2 separate regions of the Homo sapiens genome follow, and region 2 is linked to region 1. The links come from fine-mapping of genetic effects on gene expression. A gene starts in region 1. The other region holds a variant in brackets. All regions are shown on one strand. Distances are between the middles of the regions.

What was found. PIP is the estimated chance that this variant, and not a neighbour inherited with it, causes the effect.
Region 2: its variant is fine-mapped to the expression of PSMA3-AS1 in whole blood (TOPMed, PIP above 0.99). The same link has a PIP of 0.9 or more in sigmoid colon, tibial nerve, unexposed skin and visceral fat.

The regions. Positions count from the first base shown.
Region 1 is chr14:58,296,641-58,299,553 of GRCh38, reverse strand. It overlaps PSMA3-AS1 (PSMA3 antisense RNA 1), which reads left to right and starts at 1,417. Exons shown (of 4, transcript NR_029435.1): 1 at 1,417-1,599. It overlaps ARID4A (AT-rich interaction domain 4A), which reads right to left and starts at 999. Exons shown (of 24, transcript NM_002892.4): 1 at 854-999. RefSeq lists a silencer at 1-429 and enhancers at 1,060-1,149, 1,260-1,309, 1,330-1,749, 1,046-1,769.
Region 2 is chr14:58,265,281-58,268,193 of GRCh38, reverse strand. It overlaps PSMA3 (proteasome 20S subunit alpha 3), which reads right to left. Exons shown (of 11, transcript NM_002788.4): 8 at 674-720. It overlaps PSMA3-AS1 (PSMA3 antisense RNA 1), which reads left to right. Exons shown (of 4, transcript NR_029435.1): 4 at 801-2,829. Among named protein-coding and RNA genes, the nearest start is that of LINC00216, 21 kb to the left of the region's middle. The variant A/C (reference allele first, on the strand shown) is at 1,566.

The DNA of each region.
Region 1 (2,913 bases):
CCACTTTGACCCGGAATGCTCAACTCGGAGCTCCAGGACAGATAGCTCCGGAAAAGGCCAGAGCTCCCTTCGGGCTTCCCCAGGTCCCCCGCGGAGACGACCGCCGAGCCTCCGCTCCGCGGTCCCCCGGATACCCCGACTTCGGCCCGCGCCCCGCCTCCGCCGCTCGGCCCCCTCGGCCCGCCCCGGGCCCGCGGTGGCGGCAGCGGAGTGTCACGGCGCCATTGCTCTCCTTCCTTCGCTCTGCACCATGTCAGAAAGGAGAAGCGCTCCTTCACCCAAAGGGGCAGGGGCCGCGGCCTTCAGCCGGGAGCCGCCAGAGCCCCGGGGGACCCGCGTGGGGGAGGGGGCGGGGGGCGGAGGGGAGGAGGAGGGGAGGTGGCCCGGACAGGGTGTGGGAGGGGAGGGGAGCCGCACCGCAGCAGCCGCTGCCTCCTCCCAGCGCCCGCCTCAACTTTTTGTACAGCCCAGAGAGGTATCAGCTCGTAGCCCCTCGAGTCCTGCCACGGACTCCGCAGAGGTGGACGCGCCGCGGAGTTGGGGGACGGCTCCCCCAAGCAGCCCGCTCTTCACCGCGCGGAAGCAAACTTAGCGGCGCGGCCAGCCCCACAGCCATTTTCCCGGGAACCCGAGGAAGCGGACGAGGAGGCGGCTGCAACTGCGGCGGCGGTTCCTGCAGTTGCTGCCGCTGGTCAATGGCTGGCCCCTTCCCTTGCGCTCGCCGTGCCACTTGCCTAGCATCCCTCTCCCCACCTCCAAAGCTTCCAACTGCACCGGGACCTCGGGCAGCAGCAGCTGCTGCTACTGCCACTTCGTCCATTCAGTATCCCCGGATTCCCCTCTCCCCACCTACCAACTGCGGGTGAAGTGCGCGCTGTCAGCTCCAGAGTCCTCCTCCCCTCTGACCTCCGTGGGCCCCCGTCCGGGCAGCACCACTCCCAGCCGCGGCTGCAGTTCCTGCGCCGGGTTCCCCACTCGCCCCGATTTACTGCCACAATCCACCAAATAACAAGCTGTTGAGCAGACTCGCTTCTACACGAACTCCTATTGGCTGCTCATGACGCCGAAGAGCTTCGGATAGGACCTCGCTACCTGCCGTCCTCATTGGATGTAGCTGTGAAACTTCATGGATTGGTGAGAAAAACAGCAGGTAGGACATCTTCCACTTATGATTGGCTTTTTCCGAAAACCAACTTTATTGGAGAGTTGGTTATTGAGTAAGCAAGTCCTGAGAAATGATTGGTAGAGACGACTCCGGATGTGCTTGACTGGGCACTGATTGGTGAATTGAGGGGTCAGGAAGAGCAGTTCGACACGAGGATTGGCGGCGGAGTGTCCCATGGAAACGGAACCCAGAATTGCAGCCAGGGGCTTGCACGGGGGCGGGGCAGGGTCTGTCCAAGGCGCTTGCGCTAAACCAGCTTGTCGGCGCCATTTTGTCTCGGCAGCGGTGGCCGTAGCTCCATCGCATTTTATGTTTCTGGCGAGAAGGGAACGGAGTTTTCATCAGGTAGATTGGTTTTTGTGCGGCCGTCCTCCACCGTTTCCTCCAGGACAGCACCTAGTCGTGGCCGGAGGAGTCTCAGAGCTGTCAGAAAGGTCAGTTGGAGGCTATGGTTGTCCGATTGACTGGGGGGATGGCGCAGCCCTAGCGGCACCGGCACCGGAAGTGAAGGGGCCGCAGGCAGCCATGGTAAACTTCTCCCTGCGGCGGGGTGGGGAGAAGGGGCGGGATGAATGGGGGCGAGGCTTCCTCTCCCGCCGAGATAAAGAGGTGGAGGAGAGGCAAACGTCTTTCTTGGAGGTTCTCTTTCGGGTTTTCGAGAATGTGAGAGATTTTCTGGGTTCTGTCCCACTGCAATCTTTCCTGTCTTTGGAAGTGCATTTCGGGGACTTGCCATGTTCTCCACCTGATTGGCACCAGCTGTGGGAGCCTTCTTAGTTAAGACAGGGAAGAAGTGGTTCTTAGAAACATCCTGCATGGGTAGAGGTTTCCGCGTGCTCCTCACGGGATAAAGCTATGAGGAAACTGGAGAAAGCGCTGGCTTTCTGGATGCTGAGGAATTTACTTGCCAGCGCAGACGCTTCTTCTGTGACCTTAGACAAGGGTCTGTCACTCTGCACGAGGCTTATGCTACTTTTTGAAAGCAAACAGTGGTTTTGCAGGGACTGAAAACATCTTAGACAAAAGGACGTCCCCGATAAGATAGACGTTGATCTTTTTCTGTTAACATCTTATATTCTGTTAAACGAAACACACATTTTTAAATAGCGGAATTGGAGTATAAAATTGACTAGTTTTATAGAATGGAGTAATTTTTAAAATGTGACATATCGTCAGTAATCCACGTGGACTAAATTTTCTCAGTAAGAAAACAGCCGAGCAGAATCAGTTTTTTATTCGTAACAGTAATTTTGCTCAAAAGTATTCATAAAAACGTGAAATGCATGTTGGCATTTCTAGTGAGTGACCTAGTCACACTGGATAGATCCTAATAGTTACCCTCAATACCTCTGTTTTAAACCCTACTGCTATATTGGTGGCGCCCATAACTAGAAAATGATTGTGTGACTTAACAATTACTGGGTTTTTTGGCAGTTGTGCTGAAGAAAACAGAACATCTCAGTGATTACTGAGGTGAGTCATAAAGTCTAAAAATCCTTAGAATTGCGGGGGACTACCTGGAAAAACTTTCTATGGATTAGTAAAGAAATACCAGAATGGGAGGAAGGGTAGTTAAAAGATGTTTTGTTTGGTCAGATTCAAATGAGTCTGTATAATTAGCTTTCTAGTGTAATATTTTAGAATGAAATCCCAAAATTAGGACATCCTTATGGACTTGTTTACCCATTTACGTGGTTCTCATTTCTGGACTTTGATATACCTCATGTTTTTGTTATAAAACATTATGC
Region 2 (2,913 bases), 31 kb after region 1:
AAATGTCTACACTCTTTGATCTAGAGAATCACAAAATTTTAGAAACATCACTACCCAGGTTAATTGACTTTTTTATTGTTTACTGTCCAAATACCTGTTACATATTAATAGTATTCTACTTTATATACCTGTAATAAACTATTCAGGGTTTCTTAAGCTGGTTGTTGAAATGTTTTGTAATACTGCTCTTCTTACCTTGTTATAGGAACTTTTATAATAAACCTGAAAAAGTGAAACATATCTTTCCCAAATAAATAGCAGATTATATAAATGAGCCAGCTTCATGGATCATGTATTGAAATAATTAGTTGTAACCTATAAAGTTTGTAAGCATTCTTACAATAGAGGCAATCTTAAGATTACTATTATTAGGACTTAAGAGATTTGAGAAGTTGGGAGCTAACAAATTAAGACCCTAATGGTATATGTCCTTAACCTGTAACAGGAGTTTATTTTGTCAAGCTATTTTTCCCATCCTATTCATTACTACTAAAAAATATTGCTTAAAAACATTTTCTTCCTTCGTGAGGCTTCTTAGAATGTTAAATTTACCTTCTAAAAATTATACACTAAGTTATTTTACAGGAAAACAGCTTCTTAGGATTAATGTAATATATATATGCAAAGGTCAAATGAAATATTTTTGTGGATGGTAAGAAAAATTTCAACTTACATTTTTGCAACTTCTTTAACGATATCACGGCAGGTCATTTCTTTCATCTATAGAAAATAAAATGTATACTGTTCATCAGAAGAACATTTTCCACTTGTGTAATAACTATTTTCACTTTTATACTCAGATATAAAACCAAGGAAAATAACCTAAAGTCTGAAAAAGACCAGAATCGAAGTTTCCTGATTCATATTTTAATGTTTTGAAATTTATACTCCAGGCTGGGTGCAGTGGCTTGTGCCTGTAATCCCAGCACTTTGGGAGGCCGAGGCGGCCGGATTGCCTGAAGTCAGAAGTTCGAGACCAGCCTGACCAACATGGTGAAACCCTGTCTCTACTTAAAAATACAAAAGAGCTGGGCATGGAGGTGGTGCGCGCCTGTAACCCTAGCTACTCGGGAGGCTGAGGCCTAAGAATCTCTTGAACCCAGGAGGCAGAGGTTGTAGTGAGCCGGGATCACGCCACTGCACTCTAGCCTGGGCGACAGAGAGAGAGACTGTCTAAAAAAGGAAAAGAAAAAAATTTATACGCCAAAAAAGATATTCTGAGATAACCTGTAGTTACCACTAACTTTGTGACAAAATTATAAAAATCCACAGCCATCTATGAATCTGTAGGCAGACCTGAAGTTTGAACGACTGGTGAAGACATCTGATTTTCTTTATAGCCAAGTTAGGATAACAAAATGCAAACAAGTCATTAATATTTACTATATGCAAGATACAGAAAGATGAAGGAAGGAGTAAGAAGTTATCCTTCGTGGAACTATTCAAAGCAAAAATGCAAAATACCAGGGAAAGCTTTGAAGAACCAAGATTTGAGCAGGTTCTTAGAATATAGATTGGATTGGATTTGATTTCAAGAAAGATGAACGTGTAAAGCAGAAGTGGGA[A/C]GCCAAAAACTTTTTTCCAAATTAGAATTAAGCATTCTTTCAATGAACATTTGGAAATCAAGGTAGAAAAATATCCCTAGGGCCTAGCTGAGGAGTCTGTATGTTGTTGGGTTTTGATAGTAACCAGTCCAAGATTTTGTTATTAGACGTGGGTTTCTGAATAGACAGGCATTTCTGAACAGACATGACAGGATCAAAACAATGTTTGAGCAAACTGCCCTTCATCTACTGTGGATATGTTGGGGGATGATGGAATATAGTGAAAGATAATGGGTGCTCATACAGCAGTCTAGACTTAAGGTGATTCAACTACTATATATTAAACTAGATTATCTTTTATTTTTTAATTTTGAAATCTGGATGCTCAAGCTCTGCCTGCACAACCACATGAGGAAGAAGGAACAATGACAACAAAAATAACACTAAATTTAAATTTAAGAGTACTACTTTTAGGAAATAGACAAACCATTATTTGGGTACAACTAAAGGCAACTGGCATGGACTCAAATATTTTGGGGAAGAAAAAGACTAAAAGTTCTAAGGAAGAAAATGCGAACCTTGATAGTTTGAAATAGTTAAAAAGACAGTGTAGAAACTGCTTAGGCAGTTTGATTATGGACTATTAGATGATACTTGGGTCTGATAATGGTATAAGGAGAATAAAGTATTTAGGGATCCAATATTACGCCTGCAGCTTTTTCCAAATAGTTCATGGGGGAGGGGGATGTGTAAGTGGTTAACTGAAGTCTAACTAGATAGGTTTGTTGTAAGCTTAGGATGTTTACAGTTCTTCATGTTAAGTTGAGCGTGATGGGAAGGGAAAGAATGCTGATCTTTAAATTTTTGTCCTTAGTTAAGTTCTGTATTTAGTGAATTAATTGCATCCTAAAAAGTCAAACTTGAAAAGCACATTTTAAATGGCAAATCTATTTTTTACATGTTTGTGAAGTTTTTATTTTTTAGTAAACAGACCATCAGAAGAGAACAATGGTACAGAGCAGGGGTCAGCAGATGGATTTTGTAAAGCATCAACTTGTAAATATTTTCAAGTTTATTAGCTGTATGGCTCTGGTTTCTGTTCCCTGTTCCAAATGTTAAAGTCTACTGTTGTATTCTAAAAGCAGCCATGGACTGAATGTAGCTGTGTTCCAATAAAACTTACACAAAAGCAGGCAGTGGGCCATAATTTGCAACACCTGATTCACAGCATAATTTTGTCACAAACTGAAAGTGTTCCTCAATTAAAGTGATTTTTTTTTCTTGATTTTTCTCTGGGATTTATTGTTTTTCCCATTCCTTGCTAGGATTTAACTACAGAAAGACAGATAGTAACTGCTCTAAATATTCT